7 linked regions of the Homo sapiens genome follow. The protein of the gene in region 7 purifies or fractionates together with the protein of the main gene of each other region. This does not show direct contact. Each region holds a gene or a part of one and is shown on either strand. Other genes may lie near its edges. The genes, in order: PLGRKT, GARS1, PRRC1, PRMT3, DCAF4, SNX3 and SEC23A.

Region 1 (4,499 bases), on a different chromosome or scaffold from region 7:
AGGTTCCTAAGGCAGGGATCCTTGAAATGGAAAATAAATCAGCAAATAGAAACTCTAGTTTACCAAAGACTTACCTTTCATTCTTTCTAAAAGGGTTCCATAGCCCAAGTCATACTGGTAGGTGAGGATAAAGCTTAATGGAACAATCGGGACCAGGAAGGCTGGCTTCTTTTTTTTAATCGCTCTGTTTCAAGAATTAAAAGAAGAACCAATATCAAAAAATAACCTGTAAATACATATCTGTATACTTAAAGAAAAAAAAATACCTGCTTTTTGGAAGAATGCCTTTTCCTTCAGAAGTTACTTAACACATTTGATAATTCTATGGAAATAGGATTTCCTTACCCAATACCCCTAACCAGATTCTGCAGTTCTCAAGGGCAAGGTCTGTGACTTGCTCATCTTTATTTGACTCTGAAGCTCAGGTTCCTTGTTTTTAAAATGAGTAAGGATTGGTATCTACCACTAAGGGATTGTGGAGATAAACACATAGAGCCCTTCTTGGTGTCAAGTTGGTGCTCTCTCTCTCTAACTAATAAAGTAGAGAAAAAGACAGAAGCAACCTAGGAAACTAAATTAACTGTTACTGCCTTGCTTTCACAGAGTTACCCCCAAGGACTAAGGTTAATAGGTTACTTTGGTTACATACACTATTTGGACCAAAGTCTTATTCTGGCCAACTTCATAATAAAATGGTAATGGAAAACACAAAAAGAAGTAAATGACTGAAGAAAATGTTAAATAGCAAACATACCCAGCTGTTAAAGAGATGGCTGCAAGGCCAAAAAAAGTTCCAAAATATTTGAGGAATTCCCGAGACCACGCAATCTGCATGGCCATTTGTCTTTCCCTCATTTCACTCTGCATGATGAGCTGCCTTTCCAGCTAAGGACAAAACAAAAGACAAAGTAAAGTTACTCATCTTTGGAATCTGAACAAATAGTTAATAATCTGTTTTTCCAGCGGATTCATTCTTCAATTGCTTTAATTCATGTTTTTTCAAAAAAATCTCAACAGACTTTGACTAAAGTTCCTTTGGACAGCTCTCACCAACTGTCACCTTGGCAGTGAAATCTTCCTGGAATAAATACAGAATAAATATCAATATTCCATTTTTACACCCTGAGGTCTTGACTGCCTGTGGTCTGGAGCTTTAGCCAAGTCTCAAATAAATGTCCAGCTTTTCCTATTGGATGTGTGGAAAGATCTATGGGTCTTTAAATGTAGATACATCTTATTGGCCTTTATTTCTACTTGCATGGAAATCTGCCTTCCAAATCCATTCCAAATTGAAATTTATTTGGAGTATTTATTTGCTCCATATCATACCACAATATCATAGTAGATGGGTGTTGTTTTGAGACATCTATAGAGATTTTTCTTTGCCACATTTTTCTCGCCTCAAGTTCTTCACCACTTTGTTCAGTGCCTTTCACTGCTTTGAACAGAAGGCAGATGGCTCAGAACAGAGAAGGAAACTGAATTTCTAAATTGATTTTTAGAAAATACTCAGGAGAAGCAACTGTCTGTAAACCCAAGCCCATTATTTGAAGAGAGTTATATTCTTGACAGAGAAAAGTGTTGTTGGCATTGTTGTTGATGTTTTAATTCTAAAATCTTGGCACTACATGTCATTAGCCAAGCTAGAGGGCAATACACAGGGAGTTCATGATGCAAGGAAGAGGAGAGGAAGGACTAATAATGTGATTTAGTTTTCCCTCCATGCCCTCTTTCTACTGAGGGGAGTAGCTGGGAGGGGCGAATGATAGTTTAGATGTAAAGATGGGGCTTGGCTCCTTGGCCTATTTGGGAGGTTAAATCACCAGAAGATATGACGGAAGCCTCAGATGGGTTTGGGAATCCCTAAACAGAGAAGACTTGTGGCCTTGCTTCCTGCGGAGAATTCTGGGAGGGAGCAGCTACAGCACAGCAGAAATGGTTTCAGGGCAGACCTTGCAGAGAGCACACCTAAGAGAGGCCGCTTCCATCTCCCTCAACAGCCAAGGGGTGTGGAGGAAGTCTGCAAGGTTCTCACATCAGCTGGAGAGGGGCACAGAAGGTAACTGCGGATTGAGAGCAGGGGGACTACCAATGAGTCCAAAACCTAGAGCCAGCGGACCCCATAACAGACACTTGGGGAGTGAACATAAGCCAGTGGCTGGGTGGGGAAGGCCACTCACTGGATCCCAGAGGATCAGCAGCACCCGAGAGTGCTTTTCTGCTTTGTTTTCTGTTCAATCAACCTGGACAGCGCCACATGATGTTCCCTAAGGGCATGTGGCCATGTTCCAGGCTGGCGTAACCATCATCGCCATACTCTCAGGTGCTACTGATCCTCTGGGATCCAGTGGCCTTCCCCACTCAGCCACTGGCTTATATTCACTCCCAAGTGTGTGTTATGGGGTCCCCTGGCCCAAGGTTTTGGACTCTGGTAGGCCACCTGCTCTCAATCTTCAGCTACCTTCTCTGGCCCTCTCCAGCTGATGTGAGAACCTTGCAGACTTTCTTCACACCCCTTGGCCGCTGAGGGAGACGGAAGTGGCCTCTCTTAGGCATGCTCTCTGTGAGGTCTGCTCTGAAACCATTTATGCTCTGCAGTACCTGCTCCCTCCCAACATTCTCCACAGGAAGCAGGGCCATAATTCTCTGTCTGGGGATCCCCAGATGCATCTGGCTAGATGTGCCTTCCCTGATGCTGGTGCCACCTGAGATCACCTGGACCCAAGCCTAGGTCATACCAGGGAAAAGATGAACGGAGAAGGGGAGGAGGAAAGCTGAATTCAACTATTTTCTCCCAAAGAACCGAGTTTTAAACTAGAAGTAATTGAGTAACTTTGACTTGTCAAAATTAAATTTGCTGTCACCAAGAGAAACTGAGGTTCATTTTGAGTTCAATTAGAGTTTAAAAATAGATGTGTTTTTGCACAAGATTAGTGTGTGAAATTCATCCTTGCCACATTACTTATTTACAAAACTTACATACTGATTCATCATATCCCCCAAAGTGATGTAAATACAGCAATTAATTATTTGTGTTTTTATCAAAAGGCAGCAAACAAGAAATAGAGGAGTCCAGACTGGTTCTAAACCTTTGCTGCACATCATGAGCATCTGGGGAGATTTTCAAAGGTCTAGTAACCAGATATACCTCCCAGACCAACTAAACCAAGTGGGATCAATTAAGTCAGGATCTGGAGGTAAAATCAGGCATCCATAATTTCTAAAGGCTTCCAGATAGTTCCCGTGTGCAGCCGGGACTGAGAACCGTCACCTGAAATGAAAGACTCATAGCTCATATTTTTTTTCCCACAAAAGATCAACCTGAGATATCAACCTGAAAGAGATTACCTGGGAACTCTCAAAAGATTGTGAGCAGAGGGGCTTTCAGGGTGATGGAGTTAATCTGTATGGTACTATCGTGGTGGATACATGACATTCTGCATTTGTCAAAACTCATAAAACTTTACAGCACAGAGTGAACCTTAGTGCATACAAATTTTACAAATCAGCCAAAAGGGCAAGGGATGCACAAGATGGAATGGGGACTGTGACAAAATAATCTGACTGTGCTACAAATGTGTGGCACAACCTCAATGAAGGGTTGGGGGAAAAGAACTGATCTATCTTTGGAAAATGGTATTTTGACTAAAAACTGTAAAACTAAAGACAAAGGACTATACATAAACACTGTACTCTAGTGAGTAAAACTGTCTCTCACGAGTTACAGATTAACAATTCTGAAACTGCTTTACATGTCTACTGGAGATGAGCAACAAGTAAATTGACAGAAGATGGTGGAAGCCAGGTTTCTTATTATTAAACAGGGAGATTACAAACAAGCAAGAGGAAAAGACTAGAATGAACCATGTGGTACTGGATTAGAGCCAATGACATCCGTATGAACTCATGCTTAGTGCTTGATACAGACATAGACAAGGATGAAATTATAGATATGCATATCTATATGCATGCATAGATTAGGCATTCATGGCTTAGTGTAAGTACATACATTTTCTCAGCTCTGTCCACTGACAGGGCATAGAGGCAATAACAACCCCTTGCAAACAAGCATACCTAACACCCAGAAACACCCAGACATGATTTCTACTCTCCAAAAAAAAATAAATAAATAAACCAGGGCTCCTTAGAGAAATAGCTGGCCTAGGACTGGGGCAAGAAATGTATAAGAGGAGCCTACAGAATCTTATAGTGCCAGAAAGTCAAGAGATACTAAAATAATAATAATGATGATGGAGTATGTCAAAGGGACACAGGGGTCAATCTGAAAGAGCTCCTAATGTCCAAAGCTGGAACAATTTTATCAGCAAAATAAATAACATAGTGTTGGATTATAACCTAAAGTACAAAATAAATATCCATAAGCCTATACTAACATAAATGGAGAAGAGACAAATATCCTGTACAGAAGAATTCCAACTCATTTATATACATACTCCTCCTCCCTCTTCAAAGAAGTGGAGCTTAACTCCCACCCCTTG
Region 2 (4,499 bases), on a different chromosome or scaffold from region 7:
CATGATGTTATGAAATCAGGTATTGGTGAAAGAGCCATTCAAAGCTTAAGATACATTAATAGATTTATTCTGACAGTACAAAAAATTCATTGCTATAGTTTCTGAGTTAGAAATAACCTTGAAGAAGCTACCACTTGTCAGAGTTTTGAGGTAGTATCAAAGAATATCCACAATTATCCGAAACGGCTTTTAAAATTATTTTTCCTTTTCCACCTACATATGTCTTTCTTCATATACTTTACCCAGAACGTCATATTACAAAAGAAGCAGACTTTCCACATTGGTCTTTTAGGATTTTTCACAGATTAAGGTTACCAAAATAGTAAGTGCCAAACTCAAAATTTAAAAACCCATGAGGAAACAAGCCACCTTGAGTGAGACTTAGGGGAAATGATAATAGAATTAGATCCTCCAAAAGTATTAGAATAATCACATATTTTTAAAATGCTTAAGATAATTTTTAAAATAAAAGAAGTACTCAAAAACATGAGCAAAGAACAAGAGACTACCAAAAACAATCACACAGTGTGAAAATGAAGCACATATTGTATGGAAATGGATCACTGAAATTAGAAACTCTGTTGGGTGCCCAAGGGCTATATCAATTTAACAACTTTAATTACTCAGCTGAAAGTTTTTCATCCTATATAGGTAATATTTTGTTTGTTTACTCAGATGACCTATTCCACCATATTACTATAAATATGGAATTAGTATAAGTTGTTGGAAGTTAATAAAATAATTCAGAAATATTAGCAAGGAAAAAATTCCAACTGTAAAGAGAAAGGCAAAGGAAGATGAGCCAGCAGTGACTGAGAAGAATGGTCAGAGAAGTGGGAGGAAAACTGAATAATGTTTTTATTTTTTTTTGTAAGCGAGAGGAGAGAGATTTAAGAAGGTGGTCAATTTATTGGTTCTTCTGTGTTCTCAGTACAAATCTTGCTCTTTCCTACTTTTTAATCAATGCTTTTGTCTCCTCCTTTTTCACCCCTCTATACCCAAAGGAAAAAATTCACCATGTGAGCAGTTATTTGTTAACTTGCCCGTGTGTTCTTCTAGATTATTAAATGAAGAGGGCAGAGACCTTGATTCATAATGATCACTCACATAATAAACATTTGAATTGCATCATTCTTTTTTTTTTTTTTTTTTTTTTTCATTTTGAGACGGAGTCTCACTTTGTCACCCAGGCTGGAGTGTAGTAGCATGATCTTAGCTCAGTGCAACCTCCGCCTTCCGGGTTCAAGTGATTCTCCTGCCTCAGCCTCCCAAGTGGCTGGGATTACAGGTGCCCACCACCACGGCCGGCTAATTTTTGTATTTTCAGTAGCGATGGTGTATCACCATGTTGGCCAGGATGGTCTGAAACTCCTGATCTCAGATGGTGAGGAGGGCCTTTCAAAGTGCTGGTATTACAGGCGTGAGCCACCACGCTTGGCCTGAATTGCATCATTCTTACATAGACTTTTTAAAAGGCACGCTTAAAAACACATTCCTAACATTTCTTAACTTCTGAAACCAATCCTGAATATAAATTCTCTTTCTTGGCTAGGGAGATCTTGTGCGAAAACTCAAAGAAGATAAAGCACCCCAAGTAGACGTAGACAAAGCAGTGGCTGAGCTCAAAGCCCGCAAGAGGGTTCTGGAAGCAAAGGTGAGTCCTGGGATGCTAAAATAGGAACATAAGTAGGTATAGGATTGTTCATCTTTAATTTCTTTGGATGGGAGAGACCTAGAAAAGTTTCTGAACAAGTATCATTTGGTTTATCTGTTTATCCATAATGCCGCCTTCTCCTTTCCCTCTACCTGGTAGACTCCTCATCCTTTCAAAATGCAACTCAAAATGTCAACTTTTTAATAAAGCCTTCCTGACCCTGCAAATGCTGGACTCAATACGCTATATGAATTTCCATGGAAAGGATTGTGCTCTTCTTTACGACTTCTCTTATGCCTGAAAATAATGATTTTTGTTTGTTTGTTTGTTTTAAGGAAAAGGTCTGTTTATTTGATACCTGCTCCCAGACCTTTCAAACAATAGATCTCCCATCACCAAACTTAAGTTGTTTTGGGGTTTTAAAGTAACCATTTTGCTATAGCAATCCACTGACAATTCAAATATTGCTTTATATTGCTTATCAGTATCTACATCAAAGTAAACTTAGTCTTGTTTTTTTTTTGAGATGGAGTCTCGCCCTGTTGCCCAGGCTGGAGTGCAATGGTGCGATCTCAGCTCACTGCAACCTCTGCCTCCCGGGTTCAAGTGATTCTCCTGCCTCAGCCTCCCAAGTAGCTGGGATTACAGGTGCCCACCACCAAGCCCAGCTAATTTTTGTATTTTTAGTAGAGACAGTGTTTTGCCATGTTGGCCAGGCTGGGCTTGAACTCCTGACCTCAGGTGATCCACCCACTTCGGCCTCCCAAAGTACTGGGATTACAGGTGTGAGCCACCGCACCTGGTCAAGCTTAGTCTTGTAATCTTGGAAATGATCATATATTTTCCTAAATGATTAAGTAAAGATATCTTTTATATTACTCAAAGGGAAAAAAAGACCTATGGCTTCTATTGTTTTTAACCTATCAAAATCTTGTCTGTTTGATAAATTTTATATTTAATTCTGGTGAGGAATAAACTAAATTCAGATATATAAGTTCAGATTCCCACCCACCCCTCCACTCACTCACTTTTTATTTAATCTCTAACAGGAGCTGGCGTTACAGCCCAAAGATGATATTGTAGACCGAGCAAAAATGGAAGATACCCTGAAGAGGAGGTTTTTCTATGATCAAGCTTTTGCTATTTATGGAGGTAAGGGATTAATGACAAAAAGAACTATTGTGTTGTTAGTGGCTCTAATATTATACTTAAATCAAGAACATGGCTTGCCTGTTGGTATCCACTTGTATCAGGCCACAAAGCAGAGGATGGATGTTTTGCTTTTGTTTGCTTGGAGTCACCATTTGGTGTGATACCTGTTATTTTTCTCCACTGCATTTATTCCTGGACAGCACTTTTTTTGATTAGGATGTAGGGAATTGTTGGAGGCCCATGTATGTATTTGATGTGTCTGTGTACTCATGTACTCTTTTTAAAATGCAATGGAGACTGAAGAGTAACAGAGGGCCATTGTAGTACTGGCTAACTATACTATGCCCCTTCACACAGGGGCAGTGATAAAACAGTCCTTAGATTATTCTTTATGGTCATCTGCCAGGAGAAAACATTCTTCCCAGGGATGTAGATAAATCACTGTGAATGCCATATGAAGGTATATAGGCAAATACAATTCACTGATGAAATGTAAAACTATATTTTTCATAGTCAACGGATTATTACAACAACATTAGACATATAGTACTTTGCCACTGAAAGTTGACTTGAGTTTGGCTAAGTGGATCTGTAAATGTTTACCCTTTTGAGGTTAAATAGTGCCTCAAATACCCAGGAAAAAATTAGAGAATTGGATGCTAAAATTATAGATCATTGTTATCAGATGTGGTGAGAAATTATTTTGTAATTTTTACGGCAGAAAACTGTAATCTGCTTTTTCATTCTGTTCTCTAAGGGGGAACTTTTGTTGTAGATTTTGGGCTAGTCCTACTTGAAATTACAAATATAGAATTAGTAAATGGCGTAAGAGCTTTTTTATTTTACTTCCATCAGCTAGCTGAAAGTAAGGTTCTTCAGTATTGAGGGATTTGCATTGTTGACTTGAATACACTTTTAGGGAGTATAGGTATCAGTTTCTCATGTCTCCTTGCCTTCATTTGTTCAGAGTAACAAGGTAAAGTATGTGTTTTCCTCTCATATTCTATAGGTGTTAGTGGTCTGTATGACTTTGGGCCAGTTGGCTGTGCTTTGAAGAACAATATTATTCAGACCTGGAGGCAGCACTTTATCCAAGAGGAACAGATCCTGGAGATCGATTGCACCATGCTCACCCCTGAGCCAGTTTTAAAGTGAGATCTTACTTTGGAGTGGGGGTATCCTACTTTAAATAAAATAACTTATTAAATTATTTAATATACTTATCTAAATAACTTCCTGATTATAAAGAACTACTCATTTCATGTAGAAAATCTGAAAAATATGGAAAAGCAAAGAAATGTATACCTTCTGCTCACAGATAGCTATGTTAAGATGATTGTGTTTGTCCTTCCTGTTTTTTCTGTACGTCCCTATGTATTTCAGTGTTAGCAGTACACTGCTTATTTTCATGTAATATTGATGAACATATACTCATATCATTAACTATTCATCTAAAGCATTTTTAATGATAGCATAGTATTCTGTTTTATGGAAGTGCCATAATATGTTAGTTTGTGCCATATTGAAAGCATTAAAGTGTTTCTCATTTTTGACTGCACCGAATATCTTGATAGATGGATTTTTGGGTATATCCTTGATTATTTCCTTAATACAAGTTCTGAGCAAAGGTATACTTGTAGAGATTTTCAGTTAAATACTATTTGTTTTAAAGTTTCAATGCAGAAACTTAGAT
Region 3 (4,499 bases), on a different chromosome or scaffold from region 7:
TTAATTAAATGTTTTGTGAATCCTGTGAAATATAAAGCTCTGTGCTGTAGGATAGTGAAAAATGAACAAACTTAGTCTCTGTTCCCTGGAAGCATAAAATCTAGGAATATTTTGTTGTAGTGCATAGCTGAGATATCACCTGCAAAGAGTTAGGGGATGAATCTCTGTACATCTTACTAATCCCTTAATAGTTTTTACGGAATGAATGTTTACTTAAGCTTTTTAAAAATCAAACTTTAGCCATAACTGCTTCCTGGGAGGAGTGAATTAGGCAAATTTGTAACATCTGGTATAAATAACTAAGTTCATCTTATCTGTTAATACTGCTTTCAAAATCAACAGGTGCCTCTTTAAGTGTTATTAGATTTGGTGATGCCATATTTACACTATTTGTATTCTTAACATTGACCACATAGGCCTTCAGAAGCATTTATTTTTTTCTTTGTTCAGTTTTTTATGTGGTAAGTTCTTATTGAACACCTATTAAGTTAGGCACTGTGCTGGAAACTAGAGATAGAAGAGTGAGCAAAAATATACAATCTTGGTTTTATTGTACTTTAAATCCTATCATCTTCATCTTTACAAGCTAGTATCTTAAATTGTCTTACACGTTCTCGCACAGTTGTCACTTTCTCTTTTTCACTTCAGTTGTCTCTGAAATAAATTGAGTTTTCTCGAGATGTGTCCTAGCCTTCTTAATTTTCATTTGGATAAGAATTTACCATTTAATCTGATATTGTCTGTTTACCTCTGCTGTCCTTATAAAAATTATCCATGGCTACTTCTGTTCAGACTTCTTATCTTGCGTTTTGAACACATATTCATCACATTGTTCATGGTCACCTTTTATGAAAGGATTCAGATAAAAGCAATAAACAGAAACCTTTTCCCTCAGTCATCCAGCTTTTAGTTTTCTATTACATATAATCAGTTCATGTCTTCAATGGTAATTATTTTGTTGAATAAGCTGTGGTGTAATGTATACATTTGCAGCTTTTTATTTTAAGTAACTGGTCATTTTGGTGCATGTATATTTAAAAGGAATCAGAAGAAAGAGAAAAACATATTTATTATTGATATGATTGCCTACCTGAAAAATTCAAGAGAGAATTAACTGCAAAACTGCCAGAACTGATAAAAACTTTGTATGTAGTAAGATGGTCTCTTGCCAGATCAACATTAAAAAATACAGTTTTCTTAAATTATTTAACAGTAACAATCAATGAGAAAATGTAATATAAAAATAATCCACAATAGCAACCAACATCATAATGCATATGGAATAATTTGGAAGGTGTACCCCAAACTGTTGATACTACGGAAATGTAATTGTATTTTGTCATTTTTTACTCTACATTTTTGTATTGTTTGAACGTTTACAGTGAGTATATATATGTGTTTGCATATAAATGTATGCATGTATTGTGTAATCATAAATTAGTATATTTAATATGTAATAATTTGAAATGGTCTCTAACCTCTGCCATTGTTGTTTAGGGTGCTCAGGAACGGATAGATAGCTTGCGTCGAACTGGGGTGATCCATGAAAAACAGACAGCTGTGTCAGTAGAAAACTTCATTGCAGAATTGCTGCCTGACAAGTAAGTGTATTATGTTTCTCTTGGAAGCAAAATATAATTGGGTCTGGGAGTTGACACTGAATACTTAGCAAAAAGTGTCTCCTGTTTTATAACCAGAGAGAAAAGTATATTTTGATGCTGGCTATATCACTTAACTAGCTGTGTGTCCTGCATGGCTTAGCTGGCATTTCTATCCTTGTGTCTCTTTTTTAATTATAAAATGGAGATGGTCATGCCTGCTTTCTGAGATCATGCTAATAATTAATAAAATGGCACTAAGTATAAGATGATAGATTTGGTGTGGATATAATTGACCATGAGTAGCAAACACAATTATTCTCATAGTTATTCAAAGTCGTGGAATATATGGGCAAGAAGGCCTGATGGCATTCTCTAGGTTTGAGTTTCTAGTGAGCAGTATCTCTCCTGTACTCATAATAGTTTAGAAAAACCTCCAGACAGCATAATTTATCATTGTTTTTCAGGTGGCTTTTTATGGGAAAAATTTTTAATTTGCTTAATTGATTTATATTAGAATAACTTCCCTTTGTTGAAATCTACCTTCTTTTGTATTTGCATTATGGTTTTGTTGTTTTTATTTTTTATTTGTTTGTTCAGTGTTGAATAACAATGGGCATAGCATTTTGTGGCTTGTAATATGCAAAATATATCCTCCAACTTTGAGGCATATTATAGGCCAGTGGGAAAGAAGATATATGTAGTACACAGATGAGCAGTTTTAAGTAATTGTAAAAAGGAAACATAATTTTTTGCTGACAGGAAATATATAAAATTTCAGTGGAGGTAACTCTGTGGAGATAGTGTCAGGTGAAATTCATGAATAATTAGGGCTTGAACTGGATTTTGAAGAAGAGGTGAAACTTGGCCAAATGGAACAAAGGAAGTAGGATGTTCTGGGTGGAGAAAAAGTTTGAAGGTAATTGAAATGTATTCTTGGGTCAGTGATTATATCAACTTGGCTGAAGGTTTGTTGGATGGGAAATCAAGAGGTGACGGGACAAATTGTGAAGAGCTCTGAATTCTAGGTTGATAAGTTTCAACTTTCTATGTAAGCACTGAGAAACCGTCCAGTGATTGTTGTGTCATTTTTTTTTATTAACCTGTTACTGTTCATTTAATAATTAACATTAGAAATTACAATATGCCTTTTTGATATAACAAAAATTATAACTTGTGATAATACTAGTACTACTTTTAATACTATTCACTCCCTTTTCACCTTTTGCGGTATCATTGTTAAGTATTTTAATTCTGCATATATTTTAAGCTCTTAAGACATAACTGGTAATGTTCTTTGCAGTCAGTATTTGTTTATTCTCTGAATTCTTTCTTGCATTTCTGTTTTTCTGTCTGGGGTCATTTTTCTTCGAAAGGAAGCCTAAAGTACTTCCTTTGATAATACATTATAGTTCAGAGCTGCTCACTACCAATTCTCTCAGCTTTTGTTTATCTGAAAGTGCTTTAATTCACCTTTATTTTTGCTGGATGTAGAAGTCTAGGTTGGCAGTTTCTTTTCTTTCAGCACTTTAAAAATGTCATGGTACTGTTTTCTGGCTTCCGTCATTTCTGTTAAAAAGTCATCTCTCCATAAATGTTTTCTTTTGAGAAGTGTCTGTTCATGTCCTTCGCCCACTTTTTGATGGGGTTGTTTGTTTTTTTCTTGTAAATTTGTTTGAGTTCATTGTGATTCTGGATATTAGCCCTTTGTTAGATGAATATGTTGCGAAAATTTTCTCCCATTTTGTAGGTTGCCTGTTCACTCTGATGGTAATAGGAGTGGTGAGAGAGGGCATCCCTGTCCTGTGCCAGTTTTCAAAGGGAATGCTTCCAGTTTTTGCCCATTCAGTATGATATTGGCTGTGGGTTTGTCATAGATAGCTCTTATTATTTTGAGATACGTCCCATCAGTACCTAATTTATTGAAAGTTTTTAGCATGAAGAGTTGTTGAATTTTGTCAAAGGCCTTTTCTGCATCTATTGAGATAATCATGTAGTTTTTGTCTTTGGTTCTGTTTATATGCTGGATTACATTTATTGATTTTGTGTATATTGAACCAGCCTTTCTTCCCAGGGATGAAGCCCACTTGATCATGGTGGATAAGCTCTTTGATGTGCTGCTGGATTCAGTTTGCCAGTATTTTATTGAGGATTCTTGCATCCATGTTCATCAAGGATATTGGTCTAAAATTCTCTTTTTTTGTTGTGTCTCTGCCTGGCTTTGGTATCAGGATGATGCTGGCCTCATAAAATGAGTTAGGGAGGATTCCCTCTTTTTCTATTGATTGGAATAGTTTCAGAAGGAATGGTACCAGTTCCTCCTTGTACCTCTGGTAGAATTCGGCTGTGAATCCATCTGGTCCTGTACTCTTTTTGGTTGGTAAGCTATTGATTATTGCCACAATTTGAGATCCTGTTATTGGTCTATTCAGAGATTCAACTTCTTCCTGGTTTAGTCTTGGGAGAGTGTATGTATCGAGGAATTTATCCATTTCTTCTAGATTTTCTAGTTTATTTGCGTAGAGTTGTTTGTAGTATTCTCTGATGGTAGTTTGTATTTCTGTGGGATCGGTGGTGATATCCCCTTTATCATTTTTTATTGCGTCTATTTGATTCTTCTCTCTTTTTTTCTTTATTAGTCTTGCTAGCGGTCTATCAATTTTGTTGATCCTTTCAAAAAAACCAGCTCCTGGATTCATTAATTTTTTGAAGGGTTTTTTGTGTCTCTATTTCCTTCAGTTCTGCTCTGATTTTAGTTATTTCTTGCCTTCTGCTAGCTTTTGAATGTGTTTGCTCTTGCTTTTCTAGTTCTTTTAATTGTGATGTTAGGGTGTCAATTTTGGATCTTTCCTACTTTCTCTTGTGGGCATTTAGTGCTATAAATTTCCCTCTACACACTGC
Region 4 (4,499 bases), on a different chromosome or scaffold from region 7:
TTCATTTATTTTAAAGAGCTGTTTAAAAAGTAACAAATTGCTAAGTTGTAGTTGATCACCATTCTTTGCTTAAATAATATTAAGATAACACCAAACAGTGTCAGGAATAGCTTTAGCATCTGCATGGACACAATGAGGCTCCATATAATGACCAAGGAAATCTACATAAAACTATTGAAGTACTGAATGAATATCGTATTTAAAAAAATACAAATTCCCCATATTCAAGGAAAATTATCTGAATGCTTTTCAAGATGGTAGTGAAATAACACAAGTAAAACATAACCACCTGTTATATTTATTTTCAGAATATAAAGATTCCATTACTGATACCTTCTCTACATCTTTGCAAAAAAGGTGAGACTCACAGTTTAACACATAATTAAGGAGTTAAATAATAGAAGAAATAATGTGGCCCAAGGTGCAATCCATTCAACAAAATATAACAATTTTTGTGTACGTATATATGTTAATGTGTATATTTGGCTTTAGCTTTTATATCTGACCTATTCCTCTATATTAAGAAAATGATATAAAACTATCTCATATGACATGTTCACCAATAGTGGACATAATAAAGATTACCAGTCAGATAGTTCTACAAACTTTATGGAGTTCAGGTTAATCATTAGATAATTTATGCTTATATTTATTCAACACTTACTTTGTGCTAGGCTCTACTCTAAGGTCTTTACATGATTTATCTCACTTAATGGTCACAAAATATTGCTATGAGGTAAGCGCATTTTCCTTACTCACAGATGAAGTTCAGAAAAGGTAAGTAATTTGCCCAAGGTCATCTGCCAGCTAGTGAAAGAACTAGGATTTTCAGCAAGGCAGTTTGATTCCAGAACCCAAGTTCCTCAACTATACTCTGGTGCTTCCCTATCTCTATCTAAAAAAATGATGATTATAGCTTTAAATATACTATAATGAATAAGAAATAGACCTAAATTTTACCGCCCCGTGGGTTTTGTTTTTTTTTTTTGGTAAAAATATTTACTTGTTTATAAACACAATTGATATGTAAGTTGATGTAACTATTATTCTATAATAACTAATGAACAATGATACACGTTTTCTTATCTAAGGCATTAACCTAAGGAAGAAATAAAAGATCATTAGTATATTGAACACATTTAAGATTTTCCTATTTTGACTTTTCTATTTTGGCTATTTTATTTGCTTCTTTTTAAATCAACATTTAAAAACTTCTATTTAAGTTATTTATTGACACCAAAACTGGGAACGAACAGCCACATTATGATAAACTGACAATGTTTTTGTAAATACATGACAGAGAATAGTAATTGCCAACTTGGTTATTGGGTTTAACTTACTGTTATTGAATTGCCAACACTGAATCAACAAACTTGATTTTTACAACACAGTGGCTTGTTAGTTCCTTTTTACTTACAAGCAGTATGTCTTATACAAATTACTTAATTTAGTTGCTGGTATAAAGTAGTTCACATATGAAAAGACAGATAATGGACACTTGAGATTCAAAAATAACAAAATGACCTCCAGAGACCCAACATAAAGTAAGTATTCTATTAGATGTCCTAGTCAGGACATTAAAGTGTGGAGGGAAAAAGGATACAGACTGGGGGAGGGGGAATTAAAGTTTTCATTTGCATACTACCTGGTTTTATACATAGAAAATCCTGAAGCTATATGCAAAGAAGGCTACTAGAACTATTTATTGAAGTTTAAGCAAGGTCTTATGATTTAGGATCAAGGTATAAAAATTCTATTTCTACGTACTAGCAATGAAGAATTTATATAATACTACAAACAACAGCTTCAAAAAAGCATAAAGGCTGGGTGTGGTGGCTCATGCCTGTAATACCAGCACCTTGGGAGGCCAAGGTGGGCGGATCACTTGAGACAAGGAATTCGAGACCAGCCTGGCCAACCTGGCAAAACTCTGTCTCTACTAAAAACACAAAAATTAGCCAGGCATGTGGTGCACACCTGTAGTCTCAGTTACTTGGGAGGCTGAGGCACAAGGATGGCCTGAACCCAGGAGGTGGCAGTTGCAGTAAGCAGAGATCATGCCACTGCACTCCAGCCTGGGCGACAGACCGAGTCTCAGTCGCTCTCGCTCTCTCTCTCTCTCTCTCTCTCTCTCTCTCTCTCTCTCACACACACACACACACACATACAATACTTGAGATAAATGTAACAATATATGTCTGACTTACATAAACTACAAAACAACTTTAAAGATGGTCCACATAAATGGAGAGACCCACTCTCTCGTGAGTGAAAGACTCAATGTTGTTAAGATGTCAATTTTCCCTAATCTATTGATTTAACAAAATCCCAGTCAAAATCCTAACAGGCTTTCTTAGGCCAGAAATTAATGAGCTGATTTTAAAATTTATATGGCAATATAAAGGACCTAGAATAGCCAAAACAACTGTTTGTGTAAATCTTGCCATTTTGTTCTTTTTCAATCTTATAAAGACTGTCTTAAAGGCACAAGGACAGACATACAGATCCCTGGGGGAAAATGAGAGCTCAGAAGTAGATCTATATGCATATGGTCAATTAATTTTTGACAAGGGAGCCAAGGCGATTAAATCGGAAAAGGATAGTCTTTTTAAGAAATGATGATGGAGCAAGTGAATATACATTTGGGAAAAGATGAACTATTATTAACTTTTAAATTTAACTCAATTAGATGACCACCCAATTTGAAATCAAGCAAAATATCTGAGCAGAAATCTCACAAGAAGATATAAAAATGGCCAATACACATATGAAACAATGCCCAACATCACATCAGGCAAATGAAAACTACAAGCACAGCTATAACTACATACTCAAAACGGCTTAAAATACTGCATCTTTTTTATAAGTGTTAAAAATGATGTGGAACAACTGAATTCACAATGGTGTTAGCCCTAGGGATGTTAGATAGCATAGTCATTTTTAAAAAATTTGCCAGTTTCTTATAAAGTTAAATATACACTTACCATAAGACCCAGTAATTCCACTTCTAGGTACTTACCCAAGAGAAATGAAAACATCTGTCTGCACCAAGACTTTTACATGAATATTCATAGCAACTTTATTCTTAATGGCCCCTAACTGAAAGCAATACAAAAGTCTAGCAGCAGGTGAATACCTAAGTAAACTGTGGCATAGCCAAAGGAATATTACTTGGCAATAAAAAGGAACAACCTAATGATAGAAGAATCTCAAAAAAAAAAAATGCCAAGAAAGCTAGAGTACATGCTGTATAATTCCATTGATAAAAATTCTAAAAAGGTAATACTAACATATAATGACAAAGCATATCAGTGACTGTCTTGGTCTGGGAATCACGGTTGGGGACTGACCATACAGGGAATTGCAGAAGAAACTTTTTGGAGTGATGGAAATAATCTATATTTCCACAGTGGTATATGTAATTTTCAAAACTCAATGAGCTGTACAATCAAAATGTGTGAATTTTGATTATATGTAAATTATTTGTTTAAAAATGTGGTGCCTAGGAATAAACACAGACAAATGAGAGAAATAAGATCAATTATGAAGACTCAGTACATAGTAAGTGGAGCATTTTAAGTCACTGAGGAAAGGATTCAATACATTGTACAAAAGTAGTAATATAATCTTTTAAAGGATGAAACCAAAGCCAGACACCAAAAGCAAAAGGTTGACAGATGTGACTATAAAAAATGAAAAAAAATTCTATAAAGCAAGATAGTTTAAAGAAAGAAAAGCAAATTAAAGCAGTGTCTTTGTGTAACAAGTATTTTTTAAGTCTGAATTTTGAATTGATTCTTTAGGATGGATTATCAGAAGTATAATTCCTTCATAAAAGGTATGAAATATATTCCAGTGTTACATTCCTGCCATCTTCATCAACAAAAGAGTAAATGAAAAACAACAACCAAAACGTGATTGCTCTGATTTGTATTTCAAATCAGAGGAGATAAGTACTATTTATTTAACTACCATCTAAAAAATCTGGTGCATTTACCTTACTTCTTTTCTCATTGAAGCATATGAGGTATTGCTAGTAAATATTTCATTTTTGTACATTTGTTCTGATGGTTGCTGCTCTTTCATTTACATTGCCTTTTGAGTGTTAAAAATATGTAAGCTGTCTTGTTTATAGAAGTCCTATTCAATCCTTAGTGCAAGTCAAAATAGAAATGTTCCATAGTGCTTATAAATCTGGTTATCATCTTCATTTCAGGATCAAAGGATGTACCTATAAGAGTTCTATGCATTCCTCAGTTTAGAAATAAAAAACCCCAGTCAAAATGAATTAGTAATGGATATTTGTTAATTTTTCACAAAAGAAAAAATGCTAAGCATCAATATAGCAGCTGAAAAATTAACATAATGTCATATATATAAGCTGATGCTGATAACCATGATTTTCATTTCTTAAAATGAAATACAGGTAAATCTTTTCCATAATCATATTTCAAAGATGAGGGTGCACACACAATCATTTAAGTTAATTAAGTAGCATG
Region 5 (4,499 bases), about 34 Mb from region 7:
GGAAGCTGCGGGCTCCCAAACCAGACACCATTTTGGAGACCGGTGCAAAAATGTGTGCCGCTTTTGTGTGGAAAACTGCTAGACTGTGAGAGAGAGCCGACCTCCTCATGCATGAACCTTTATAGAGGGTGGTCCACATATTCTGTGCACTACATACACATACGCTGGGCACATACTGGCTCTCTGTGTTAAATCTCAGATTTGCTGCCGCGCGTGGTGGCTCACGCCTGTCATCCCAACGCTGCGCCAAGGCAGGAGGATCGCTGGAGGCCAGAAATTCGAGACCAGCCTGGGCGGCAACAAAGCGAGACCCCGTCTCTACAAAAATATTTTTTATTTTTATTTTATTTTTCCGTCAAGCTGTTCTTTATTTCAGGAAGAGGGCAGGGGAGGGGGCTCAGTCTTTCTTGGCAGCGGCTTTCCTCATGGCAGCCAGTACCTTGCTCAGCTCCTCCCGCTTCCTCTTGGCACGGATGTGCGTCCCCACCCTTTTCTTGATGAACTTGAGGGCCCATTTCTCCTTGAAGACCTTCAGTGACTCCATGGCGCGCAGCTCGTACGAAGCGAAGCCACACACCTCCCGGATCATGTCCCGCTACAAACTTGGTGCGTTTGCTCAGACGCCCGCGGCGGCGGCTGTGCCTGGGCTTGCTCACGTTCTTGGTCACCTTGTGGCCCTTGTTGAGGCCCACGGCCATAAGGTAGCGCAGAGCCATGGCTGCTGCTCTCCATGGCGGCCGTGGCGGAAGGCCAAAAATATTTTTTAAATTAGCCTGGTGTTGTGGCTCGTGCCTGTAATTCCGGCTACTCCGAGGTTGAGGCAGGAGGACGGCTTGAGCCGGGGAGATGGAGGTTGCCGGGAGCGGAGATCGCGCCACTGCACTTCAGCCAAAAGGGGGGTAGGAGGGAATAAGTAAATAAAATTAAATAAATAAAGTGGTATCTCACTGTGGTTTTGATTTGCATCTACCTAAGGACTAATGATGTTGGGTATCTTTTCATGTGCCAGTTGGCTATTTGTGTAGCTTTTTCTTTTTTTTTTTTGAGACGGAGTTTTTTTTGTTTGTTTTTGAGACGGAGTTTCGCTCTTGTCGCCCAGGCTGCAATGCAGTGGCACCATCTCGGCTCACTGCAGCCTCCACCTCCCGGGTTCAAGCGATTGTTCTGGCTCAGCCTCCCAAATAGCTGGGACCACAGGCGCCCGCCACCACACCGAGCTGATTTTTGTATTTTTAGTAGAGACGGGGCTTCGCCATGTTTATCAGGCTGGGCTTGAACTGCTGTCCTCAAGTGATCCGCCAGTCCCAGCCTCCCAAAGTGCTGGGATTACAGGCGTGAGCCACTGTGTCCGGCCCTAAATAATGTCTTTCGATGCACGGAAGTTTTCAATTTTGATGAAGCCCAATTTATGTGTGTATGTGTGTGTGTATATATATATATGTAGTGTGTGTGAGTTTTGGGTGTCATATTTGAGAAATCATTGCCTAATCAAGATCATGATGATTTATACCTTTGTTTCCTTCAAAGAGTTTTATAGTTTTAGATCGAGATCCATTTTGGTTCATTTTTGTCCCATATGGTATGAAGTAAGGATCCAAATTCATTCTTTTGCAGTTTGATATTCAAATGTCCCAGCAGTTGAAAAGACACTTCTTTCTTTCATTGAATGGTCTTGGCACCTAGATGAAAACCAGTTGACCATAGATAGGCATATGGGTTTATTTCTGGTCTCAATGCTACTCCATTGATCTATATTTCTATCCATATGCCAGTAACACAGTGTCTTGATTACTGTAGCTGTGTAATGAATTTTGAAATTGCGAGGTGCGAGTCATCCCAACTTTGTTCTTTTTCAAGATGATTTTGGGTATTCTGGGTCCCTTGCATAATATGAATTTAGGATCTGCTTTTCCATTGCTAAAAAAATGGCATTTGGAATTTTGATAGGGATTGCATTCAATCTGTAATTTCTTTCAACAGTGTTTTATAGTTTTCTGTGTACACGCCATATATTAATTTTGTTAAATATATTCCTAAGTACTTTTTCTCTTTTTTTTTTTTTTTTTTGTAACTGAGCCTGAGCAGGACCAGAGGAGTGCTTTATTCTTTTTGATGCCATTGTAAATGTAACTTTTCTTTCATATTCAGGCTGTTCATTGCCTGAACCAGTGTATAGAAATACAACTGGTTTTTCTATATTGATCTTGTATCCTGCAACCTTGCTGAATTCATTTGTGAGGTCCAGTAGATTTTTGGTGGATTCTTTAGGATTTTCTGTATATAAGATCATGTTTGGTTGCCTTTTCTTTGTCTTGCCTAATTGCCTGTCTAAAACTTCCACTACAATGTTGAACAGATGTATTGAGAACCAACATCTTTGTCTTATTCCTGACCATAGAGGGAAAACTTTGTCTTTGGCCACTAAGTATGATGTTAGGTGTGGGTATTTTGTAGATGCTCCTTATCAGGTTGAGGAAACTACCTTCTGTTTCTAGTATGTTGAATGTTTTTTTAATCATGAGAGGATGTTGCATTTTGTCCAGTGCTTTTTCTGTGTATCAATTGAGAAAATCATGTGAGGTTTTCCCCATCTATTAGTATGGTATATTGATTGATTTTCATATGTTGAACCAACCTTATATTTCTGAGATAAATCGCGCTTGGTCTTGGTATATAATTCTTTTTATATGCTCCTGGATTTTGCTTGCTAGCATTTTGTTAAGGATTTTTGTGTCTCTGTATTCATAACCCATACTGACCTATATTTTTCCTTCTTTTTTTTTTTTTTTTGAGAGATGGAGTCTTGCTCTGTTGCCCAGGCGGGAGTGCAGTGGCATGATCTCGGCTCACTGCAACCTCTGCCTCCCAGGTTCAAGCGATTCTCCTGCCTCAGCTTCCCAAGTAGCTGAGACTACAGGTGTGCACCACCACGCCTAACTAATTTTTTGTATTTTGGTAGAGATGAGGTTTCACTCTATGTTGGCCAGGCTGGTCTTGAACTCCTGACCTCAGGCGATCTGCCTGCCTTGGCCTCCCAAAGTGCTGGGCTTACAGGCGTGAGCCACTGCACCCGGCCTTGACCTATATTTTTCTTCCTATATCTTTGTCTGATTTTGGTAACAAGGTAATACTGGCCTTATAAAATGATTCGGAAAAATGTAGTAAATATCTTGGAATCATTTTTGTAGGAGCAGTTCCCAGAAGGAAGGCATGTACATTTGTAAGTTACTTGATAAATATTTTCCAGTCATTTTCCAAAAAACCAAATTGTGTTTATTTGTGATTAACATTGCCTTTGCAGAATAGTAGTCTCTTAGAAATTATAATTCTTAATGCCTTGAGGTACTTAAAAGTTTCTCTGAAAGACAAAGGCAAGCCCAACCTTCTGCAACACACCTGATTTTAACATCTAGAGCAGCTCCAAAGGTGCTAGATGCAGCATGTTACCAGCAAATTGTTTTCGAGTGCTTCCTACATAGAACAGGTTTTCTCAGCTTTAGCACTGTTTTGGGCCAGGTAACTCTTTTGTTGTTGTTTTTGAGATGGAGTCTTGCTATGTTGCCCACACTGGTCTCAAACTCTGGACTCAAGCCATCCTCCCACCTCAGCCTCCCAAGCAGTTGGAACTGCAAGTGTGAGCCATCACACCCAGCTGAATAATTTTTTTTTCTTTCTTTCTTTCTTTCTTTTTTTTAATGTTGTTTGTTTGAGACGGGATCTTGCTATGTTGCGCAGGCTGGTCTTGAACTCCTAGGCTCAAGCAATCCTCCTGCCTCGGCTTCCCGAGCAGCTGGGATTATAGGCATCAGCCACTGCACCCAGCCCTGGATAATTCTTGCTGAAGAATGTGTGGAAGCTGCCCTGCGCATTGTAGGGTGGTTAGCAGCATCCCTGGCTTTTACCCACTAGGCGCTAGTAGCAGCCTACCCCTCCTTCTCCCGAGCTGTGACAAACAAAAATGTCTCCAGACATTGCCAGATGTCCCCTGGTGGGCAAAATAATCCTTAAGAAGCACTGATCTACAAACTGTGATGCATACTGGGTTTTATATTATTACTAGATAAAATTGTCTCTAATGGCCAGGTGCGGTAATCCCAGCACTTTGGGAGGCCGAGATGGGCAGATCACAAGGTCAGGAGTTCGAGACCAGCCTGGCCATTATGGTGAAACCACATCTCTACTAAAAATACAAAAATGAGCCAGGCATGGTGGCATGCGCCTGTAGCCCCAGCTATTCGGGAGGCTGAGGCAGAAGAATCGCTTGAACCCAGGAGGCAGAGGTTGCAGTGAGCCGAGATTGTGCCATTGCACTCCAGCCTGGGTGACAGAGCAAGACTCCATCTCAAAAAAAAAAAAAAAAGTCTCTAATTCTCACTGTATACCATTACCACTTTGGTGCCATTTGTCCCAGTCCATGTCACCATATCCTGTTTACTTTCAAATCTGTCTCTTTAGGCTCAATTTCTCTCTGTATTCTCAGACCCGTATTTCCCATTGCC
Region 6 (4,499 bases), on a different chromosome or scaffold from region 7:
GAATGTCCTCAGTTATATACCATGGGGGAATCTTTGGGTGTAAATTTAAGACAAGACCTGGTGATATACACATACATGCCTAGCTGACAAGATTTTTCTCTACTTGTTTCCACTTGAAGATAACCAGTAAAGTCAAGACAAGAGAGGGGTGAGATACCAAGACCAGACACAAGGAGGGGCTTTGAGACTCCTCTGTTTCTCAATATGGACGAGACTTATACAACAGAGAACTTCATCCCACAAGGGCAGGACTAGAAAAAACGGAAAGCAAACAAGCTATAGGTGGCAGGTGCTAAAATAACTTTAGGAAAGCCAAAAGAAATGCTCCATCAGTGATAAAATCAAAGTTTACAGAACAAATAATTATCAAATGACCATTCCAATACTGCTGGACACAAAGTAACTTTACAAAATTATTTTAAGTAATTCTCTACTTCTCTGCTAAGAGATTAAGTGATTCTCTGCCAAGAGACACTGGCTTCATTTATTTTGGTGGCTCAAATTATATACTCCATCATTCAATGTCAGCAACTACAATGGTGGTCCTAAGTAAAACCAAAATAGTTTTAAGCAGCCTTGGAAGGAAAAAAAAAAAGGTTAATCAACTACCTTTAGAATCTCTAGCCCAATCTCAAGGTATACCCCTATCAGATATGCCATGTCTTCATGCTTGCCTTTTTTCTCAACTTAACAAAATTAATTATCATGAAAGAATCAAAACTTACTCACTTAAGACTTCCAAACTAATGAAAGTACAATTTTATTTCTTGCAAATCAAATGAACTTACTCTAAACTGAAATTCCAGGCATTAGCAAAAAAAGGAAATAACAGATGATCACAGTGTAGCTTAAAGCCATATCCTAGAAGGGCCAACCACAACCATTTGTTAATGTGGCAAAGCAAAGAACAGTGTCTACTCTTCCCTTCTTCACATGGCCACCTGGTTAAATTTCCCAGCTTCTTTTGTAGCTAAGTACAGCAATGCGCAGAAACAGAAATAATACGACTTCCTGGTTGTGTCCTTCAAGGGCAGAAATAAACATTCCCCTTGGCTAGAATGTGAATATGATGTTAGAAGCTGATAGTCAAGCCACAATACTAACCCTGGACTGTACCTGAAACCTCTCCATGTGGAGAAAAAAACCAAAAAAACAAAAAATTATCCTCTTTATCTGAGAACAGCCCAAACTCTATACTACCTGATACAACCTTTCTGGCAAGCTATAGCAAACGTCACATTTTACTAACACATTCCAAATTCCTAGGTTGTCAGTTAAATATTTCTTTAAAGAAGTAGTGGCCAGGCGCGGTGGCTCATGCCTGTATTTTGGGAGGCTGAAGTGGGCATATCACTTGAGGCCAGGAGTTCGAGACCAGCCTGGGCAACACGATGAAACCCCATCTTTACTAAAAATACAAAAATTAGCCAGGCATGGTGGTGCACGACCTATATATTCCCAGCTACTTGGGAGGCTGAAGCATGAGAATTGCTTGAACCAGGGAGGCAGAGGCTGCAGTAAGCTGAGACTGCACTATTGCACTCCAGCCTGGGCAACAGGGTGAGAGACTGTCTCAAAAATAAATAAATAAATAAAACAAACAAACAAACAAAAAAATGAAGTAGAACTTTGGTTGAAAGCTTTGTCTTTTAACTAAGGAATCAAAACAGTAAACTGCAGTTCCAGTTTCCTGTGCTGGGTCTAAGGAAGGGATGGCAGGCACCACGTCCAGCTTCCTGACAGGCACCTACGGCAAGAAGCCCCTGACGAGAAACAGGCCAAGGAGATGTATGAGGAAGACAAGGATTTCAAGCAGAAACAAGAAGAGGAGCAGAAAAAACTTGAGGAGCTAAAAGCAAAGGCCACAGGGAAGGGTTCCCTGGATAGGTGGAATTAAGAAATCCGGCAAAAGTCTATGGCCATTCTATCCTGAATGCAATTGCTCGTCTGATCTCAGAAGCTAAGCGGGGTTGGGCCTGGTTAGTACTTAGAAGGGAGAAATCTGGAAAACAAGAACAAAAACCAAAAAACAAACCACTGTGTCCGAGGCAATGATGACCCTTGATCCCATTCCTATTTAAATATCTGCATTTCCTACTATAAAATCTTCTGCTTCCACTCTAGGAAGCAAAGGATGAAATGTCTTGGAGCCTGTTGCACATTTAAGAATAAACTTTTTTTCTCTTTTTCTCTTTTTTTTTGGCACAGAGTCGCGCTGCCACCCACCGCAACCTCTGCCTCCAAGGTTCACGCAATCTTTGTGCCTCAGCCCCCTGAGTAGCTGGGATTATAGGCATGCACCACCACACTGGCTAATTTTTGTATTTTAGTAGATATGGGGTTTTGCCATGTTGGTCAGGCTGGTCTCGAACTCCTGATCTCGAGGGATCCACCCGCCTCAGCCTCCCAAAGCGCTGGGATTACAGGCATGAGCCACCACACCCGGCCCTAAGAATAAACTTCTGGAAAAAAGAAAATAGCAGTTCCAAGATTTTTTTGGACACCATCTTTCTTATCTGATGTTCAAGAAATTGCTGGCTCTATTTACATGAAAGCAGCATAACATGGTACAAACATCAAAGTATCTAATAATAACAGTCTACTACTTTCTGGAAGGGGTGAGATAAGCATGATGATAAAGGTGAGCAGGAGAGGAAAATGTCTATTGCATGTGATCACCAGGATAGCTCAAAGCACTTTTTTAGATTTTCCCCTTTACAGGTATAAAGTGACAATATTTATAAAGATTCCTTTTTTGAGGCATGCTTGATGGCATGCAACAGTAATCCCAACTACTTGGCTGAGGTAGGAGGCTCACTTGAGCCCAGGAGTTCAAGACCAGCCTGGACAACACAGCGAGAACCTGTCTCCAAAAAATTCCTTTCTTAAATGAATACATATGTCTTTTTTTTTTTTTTTTTTTTACTTCTGGCTTACTTTCATGATTATTATACAGGGATATAGACATGGATGATGCAAGACAAGGGCAAAAAGATCTGGCTTGATTGAATGTAGTCTGTGTCTCCCCTTCCTCCCAAAAACTTAAGCTGTAGAGATTGGTATGCTTTCAGTTAATATTTAAATGCCTCCCCTCCAAAAAGTTTTCTATCTTTGACAAATGTCACTGGTTTTCCTCTCTGTTGCCAAGATCTGCTATTCATTTTATGTTTTACTATTTTAGAATCTATTTTTTTAATCCCATCAAAGCTACCAACCATTGTGGTTCTATGTATATTTCTCTTCCTTCTCTACTGTCTATCTATCTCAGTGAGACAGATAGCATGATAAGCAGCAGGAGAAATCCTTGCTGCATATAAGTGCCCTTACTGGGATGCTTTTTAAACCACCACTGCCGGCCGGGCTTGGTGGCTCACGCCTGTAATTCCAGCACTTTGGGAGGCCGAGGTGGGTGGATCACGAGGTCAGGAGATGGAGACCATCCTGGCTAACAAGGTGAAACACCATCTCTACTGAAAACACAAAAAAAATTAGCCAGGCGTGGTGGCAGGCACCTGTAGTCCCAGCTACTCGGGAGGCTGAGGGAGGAGAATGGCATGAACCCAGGAGGTGGAACTTGCAGTGAGCTGAGATTGCACCACCTCACTCCAGCCTGGGTGACAGAGTGAGATTCCGTCTCAAAGAAAAAAAAAAAAACCGCCACTGCCCAAACCCCACCCCACCCCAGTAAAAGAGAACCTGAATGGTTTCAAAGGCTCCTCAGGTGATATGAATTTTCTGTGAGGGCTCTGGGCAACCATGGTAAAACCTTGTCTGAGACAAGCCTGGGCAACATGGAGAAACCCTGTCTCTACAAATACAAAAAAATTAGCCAGGCATAGTGGCGTGCTCCTGTAGCCCCAATTACTCAGGAGGCGAAGGTTGGGAGGGTTGCCTGAGCCCAGGAGGTCGAGGCTACAATGAGCCCAGATTGCACCACCGTGCACTCTAGCTTGGGCAACAGAGTGAGACCCTGTCTCAAACAAAAGTACGGGCTCTGAAGGTCCGAAAATCTAGGTTCAAATCCCAGTTTTACCATTTAATAGCTGTGACCCTGGGGAAGTTAACTTTCTTAAACTTCATTTATTTGTAAGTGTCCACTATGTGCCAAGCAGTGTTGGATATTGAGTAAGGGTGATTATGACAGTCCCTGTCCTCTAAGAGCTTATAATGGGTGACACAGGAACTTACAGGAAGCCAAAGACAAGCAAACAAATTTATTCCTAACAAAGCTACCAGGGCACACAGGAAGGAAATCTGGTCCAGAGTCAAGGGATCAGCAAAATCTTTAAAAAGGGGACATTAAGGCTGAGTCCTGCAGGATAAGTGATAGTAACCAGATGAGGCTCTTAAAGGAAGCCTGTTCTTAACAGAGGAGGAAGTGTGTGCAAAAGGCCTGGATACAAAAGAACTCAGCTTAATTGGGAGATACCAGTTCAGGACTGGAGTTAAAATGAGGAAAGGACAAGAGATGAGGATCAGTTGATCAGCTTCTACAGGAA
Region 7 (4,499 bases):
CCATAGAAGTATTCTTTGTTGATGCTGAGTGAGAGAATAGGGAGGAAAAAAAGCACTTTGGTTCTTCTTATCCTTATAATTATATATACACACACACACACACACACACACACACACACACACACACTTTACATTCCAAAACAAAACCATCTTCCCTACCTCCAGCAGTCCTACAGCTATGGAAAGTGCCACCCCAGAGGAACGCAAAGGTCTCTTTCCCTGTGGTACAGGCCAAGGGTCTCGCTGGAGTTCTCCCAGAAGATCTGTGAGATTCATGTCTATTTTCTGTACTGGTTGTAAGAATCTAAGAAACAGAATTAAATAAAAAGCCATTTGTAAATGTTTATGGGTGAGAGTTCGATAAACAAATTTCACTTTCCTAAAAATAGAAAACAACACTCTGAACACACAGCAGACCAATGGTTCTCAAACTTTCGTGTATATGAGAACCAGCTGGAGGGCTTGTTTTAACACATATTGCTAGGTCCCAGTTCTAGAGTTTGTTTCGGTAGGTCTGGAGTGGAGCCGAAGAATTTGCATTTCAAACGCATTCCTAGGTGACACGTGATGATAACAGCCCCAGAAACCACATTTTGAATACAACCACAATAAACGAAACACTCAAACCAAGTACTTCAGGATTTCATCTCTCACTAGTCTAGTAAGTTTTAGGTTACTGAAATAATTATGAGAAAATACATCAACTAAATTTTAGTAATACTACCTCTGATTAGAAAGCTTAGGGGAAAAAGCTAGCAGGGCGCGGTGGCTCACACCTGTAATCCCAGCACTTTGGGAGGCCGAGGAGGGAGGATCATAAAGTCAGGAGATTGGGATGGTGAAACCCCGTCTCTACAAAAAATACAAAAATTAGCCAGGCATGGTGGTGCATGCCTGTAATCCCAGCTACTTGGGAGGCTGAGGCAGGAGAATTGTTTGAACCTGGGAGGCGGAAGTTGTAGTGAGCCAAGATCATGCCACTGCACTCCAGAAACCTTAGCGGGAAAAGCTACCTCTAAAGCTAAGAAGAAAAAATAAAAACCTTGGCTGCCCTAAAACCACACAAAAACAAGTTTTTTCCAAAGTTCAAAATAAAAAATAAGGAAAATAACAAAACTAAAGTAACTCCTTACATTGTTAAGACAAAAAACAAACCATTTTAATGACATGATTTTGACTCAATTCTTTAAAAAGTATGTTAATACAATTTACTTATATTCCTAAAAATATTTAACAATATAGTATCACTGAATGCCTATGTTCAAGGGTATGGAATGTTTAAAATAGCTACAGAAACGGTCAAATTCTCTTCATCATATTTATTACCTGTTGGAAGGAGGTGGCTGCTGTACCTGAGGACCACGTGTTGCTTGAGTAAGTGGTACTTTAGAGAGCCCCAGCATTTCCTGTAAAGAGATTACTTGTGCAATATTCATTTAATTACTTTTACAAAGATTTATCAACTATTTATCATGTATAAAATGCTGTGCTAGACATTAGAAACACAAAAATAAAAAATACAAGGTCTCCTTCCTCAGAAAACAAAGAATCCAGTGGGAGAGATTATCAAGAAAACAATAACACAAAATAATCATCATGAGAGAGAAAAGCACAAGGTGTTATATAACCAAAGAGGAGGCATATTAGCTCAAAAACACTTTATTTCTAATTAACAGTCAAAATAAATTGTTGTGTAACTTAAATGTCCATACTTCTTAATTTATATTCATTCATCCGTTTCAGCAAACTATATCATAAGCACCTGCTATGTGGCAGGAATACAATGGTAAAAACTAACTAGTCCCTTCCCTCATGGAAATTAAAATCCAGAAACATAAATTAATCAAATCAACAGATAAATAAATGTAAAATTGCAACAGTAGTAAATGTTAGGACTTGGGGAGTTATAAGGCTCACGTACTTTGTACCTATATACATCTTGATTTTCTAATGTAATTCATAACCAAACTACGAACTGCCACCTTTGTTTTGAATTTCAGATATGTGCACAATTTCTCTCTAGACAAATGAAAATAATGTTATACTAAATTTTTCTTGAATCTAGAAATGCTTAGTCATGAAGTACTGGAGTTATAAAACTGTGTAACAGAAAACTGAAGTCTAAAGATGTACAAAGATAAAATTAGTGAACTAATCCTGCAATATTTCCTATACTGTTAGCAGAAACAGCAACTCTTTACTAAGAACTTAATATGTTCCATATTCTATGCTAAAACCTTTATATATACTATTTCCTCACAAAACAATAATGAAATAGATTTCTTCTTAAATTCTACTTTATAAATGAAAATTGACAATCAGAAAGACTAAGTAATTTGTCTGAGGTTACACAATCAGTAAGTAACAAAGCAAGATTTTAAATCCAGGTTTTTCTATAAAGCTCTATAAGGGTTTACACCATATTGAGAATTTCATATTTAGTACTAATAACCTGGCAAAATAGGTAGTTTATTCCTTTCTATGAAGGATGACACAATCAGCAAAGACAAAAACCCAGGATCATACAACCAGAAGAGTTTAAGATTTGAATCCAGGACTATCTGGGGAGCAAAGGCCAGGCTCTTTTCAACTAATAATAGGGAAAGAATAGGGAAATTTAATCTAAATAGGGAAAGAAAATAAACATGTTTCAATGGAGAAAAAAAATTCAGTCTGCAGGCATTCACTTGCCTATTGAAAAAAGGAAGATGTGGCCAGGCGCAGTGAATCACAGCTGTAATCCCAGTATTTTGGGAGGCCGAGGCGGGTGGATCACCTGAGGTCAGGAGTTCAAGACCAGCCTGGCCAACATGGTGAAACCCCATGTCTACTAAAAATACAAAAATTAGGGCCAGGTGCGGTGGATCATGCCTGTAATCCCAGCACTTTGGGAGGTCAAGGTGGGCAAATCACAAGGTCAGAAGTTCAAGACCAACCTTGGCTAACATGGTGAAGCACCAACTCTACTAAAAATACAAAAATTAGTAAGGCATGGTGGTATGCTCCTGTAATCCCAGCTACTTGGGAGGCTGAGGCAAGAGAAGCGCTTGAACCCAAGAGGCAGAGGTTGCAGTGAGCTGAGATCGTGCCACCGCACTCCAGCCCGGGTGACAGAGCGAGACTCTGTCTCAGACAAACAAAAAAAAACTAGGCCGGCCTCAGTGGCTCACACCTGTAATCCCAGCACTTTGGGAGGCTGAGGCAGGGGGATCACCTGAGCTCAGGAATTCAAGCAGCCTGGCTAACATGGTGAAACCTTGTCTCTACTAAAAAATACAAAAATTGGCCAGGCGCGGTGGCTCACGCCTGTAATCCCAGCACTTTGGGAGGCCAAAGCAGGCAGATCACGAGGTCAGGAGATCAAGACCATCCTGGCCAACATGGTGAAACCCGGTCTCTACTAAAAATACAGAAAAAAAAAATTAGCCGGGTGTGGTGGCATGCGCCTGTAGTCCCAGCTACTCGGGAGGCTGAGGCAGGAGAATCGCTCGAACTAAGGAGGCGGAGATTGCAAGATCATGCCACTGCACTCCAGCCTGGGTGACAGAGCAAGACTCCGTGTCAAAAAAAAAAAAAAAAAGAAAAAAAAAGGAAGATGTTTTATGTGCTTCATATGCATTATATAAGTAAAAGGTACTCTACAATCAGAACAGTAAACTATTCTAAATAAATTCATAATTTAATAATAACATTAATAGTAGCAAATGCTTAAATGTACAATTCATTTAATTCTCATGACTACACTATAAGGTATATACTATTACTATCTCTATTTTACAATTGAAAAAAACTAAAGCACAGAGATTTCAACTGGTTCACTTTCTCTCCTGTCTCATGGAAACATGATTCTCCTCTCTAAGGTACTCCGCTTCCTGTGCTCCTGAAGGAATCCCTACTATGTCTTCCTAAACCTGACTTTCCTCATCTCACTCTTGCTTTAACTCACCCTCTTTAGTCTCTTTCCTTTCTCCTTCCTCCTAAAGTACATCTCTTTAACTCAGTTCTCTCTCAAATTCCCATGCTATCTCCTCCTTCATTACCTTCAACAAACCTCTTAAAAGAACAAACTTCAGGCCGAGCACGGTGGCTCACTCCTGTAGTCCCAGCACTCTGGGAGGCCGAGGAAGGTGGATATCCTGAGGTCAGGAGTTCAAGACCAGCCTGGCCAACATAGTGAAACCACGTCTCTACAAAAATACCAAAATTAGCTGGGCATGATGGCGGGTGCCAGTAGTCCCAGCTACTCGAGAGGCTGAGGCAGGAGAATAGCTTGAACCCGGGAGGCGGAGGTTGCAGTGAGCCAAGATTGTGCCAATGCAGTCCAGCCTGGGTGACAGAGCGAGACTCTTGTCTCAGAAGAAAAAGAACAAATTTCAACTTTCTCTACCTTCTCAAATCTTATTCACTATTCATTGACTAACGCATTCATTACTCATTATCCTCCCCATTTAAACCTGCAAATTCCCCTAGTATGTTCTCTTAGTTAACTGCAGCACCAC

The links.
Region 1: the proteins of SEC23A (region 7) and PLGRKT purify together in Homo sapiens (affinity purification with mass spectrometry; one large-scale study listed by BioGRID and IntAct). This does not show direct contact.
Region 2: the proteins of SEC23A (region 7) and GARS1 fractionate together in Homo sapiens (co-fractionation; one large-scale study listed by BioGRID). This does not show direct contact.
Region 3: the proteins of SEC23A (region 7) and PRRC1 purify together in Homo sapiens (affinity purification with mass spectrometry; 2 studies listed by BioGRID and IntAct, with this or other methods). This does not show direct contact.
Region 4: the proteins of SEC23A (region 7) and PRMT3 fractionate together in Homo sapiens (co-fractionation; one large-scale study listed by BioGRID). This does not show direct contact.
Region 5: the proteins of SEC23A (region 7) and DCAF4 purify together in Homo sapiens (affinity purification with mass spectrometry; one large-scale study listed by BioGRID and IntAct). This does not show direct contact.
Region 6: the proteins of SEC23A (region 7) and SNX3 fractionate together in Homo sapiens (co-fractionation; one large-scale study listed by BioGRID). This does not show direct contact.

The regions. Positions count from the first base shown.
Region 1 is NC_000009.12:5,361,004-5,365,502, forward strand, and holds part of PLGRKT (plasminogen receptor (KT)), read right to left. Parts: intron 886-4,499; coding exon 755-885; intron 185-754; coding exon 75-184; intron 1-74. UniProt on the Homo sapiens protein: Receptor for plasminogen. Regulates urokinase plasminogen activator-dependent and stimulates tissue-type plasminogen activator-dependent cell surface plasminogen activation.
Region 2 is NC_000007.14:30,597,244-30,601,742, forward strand, and holds part of GARS1 (glycine--tRNA ligase isoform 1 precursor), read left to right. Parts: intron 1-1,552; coding exon 1,553-1,654; intron 1,655-2,703; coding exon 2,704-2,806; intron 2,807-3,815; coding exon 3,816-3,957; intron 3,958-4,499. UniProt on the Homo sapiens protein: Catalyzes the ATP-dependent ligation of glycine to the 3'-end of its cognate tRNA, via the formation of an aminoacyl-adenylate intermediate (Gly-AMP).
Region 3 is NC_000005.10:127,537,543-127,542,041, forward strand, and holds part of PRRC1 (protein PRRC1), read left to right. Parts: intron 1-1,497; coding exon 1,498-1,601; intron 1,602-4,499. UniProt on the Homo sapiens protein: May act as a regulator of the protein kinase A (PKA) activity during embryonic development.
Region 4 is NC_000011.10:20,502,355-20,506,853, reverse strand, and holds part of PRMT3 (protein arginine N-methyltransferase 3), read right to left. Parts: intron 1-4,499. UniProt on the Homo sapiens protein: Protein-arginine N-methyltransferase that catalyzes both the monomethylation and asymmetric dimethylation of the guanidino nitrogens of arginine residues in target proteins, and therefore falls into the group of type I methyltransferases.
Region 5 is NC_000014.9:72,929,215-72,933,713, forward strand, and holds part of DCAF4 (DDB1- and CUL4-associated factor 4), read left to right. Parts: intron 1-350; exon of another isoform or gene 351-542; coding exon of another isoform or gene 543-606; exon of another isoform or gene 607-750; intron 751-4,499. UniProt on the Homo sapiens protein: May function as a substrate receptor for CUL4-DDB1 E3 ubiquitin-protein ligase complex.
Region 6 is NC_000006.12:108,250,490-108,254,988, forward strand, and holds part of SNX3 (sorting nexin-3), read right to left. Parts: intron 1-4,499. UniProt on the Homo sapiens protein: Phosphoinositide-binding protein required for multivesicular body formation. Specifically binds phosphatidylinositol 3-phosphate (PtdIns(P3)).
Region 7 is NC_000014.9:39,085,603-39,090,101, forward strand, and holds part of SEC23A (protein transport protein Sec23A), read right to left. Parts: intron 1,407-4,499; coding exon 1,327-1,406; intron 305-1,326; coding exon 160-304; intron 1-159.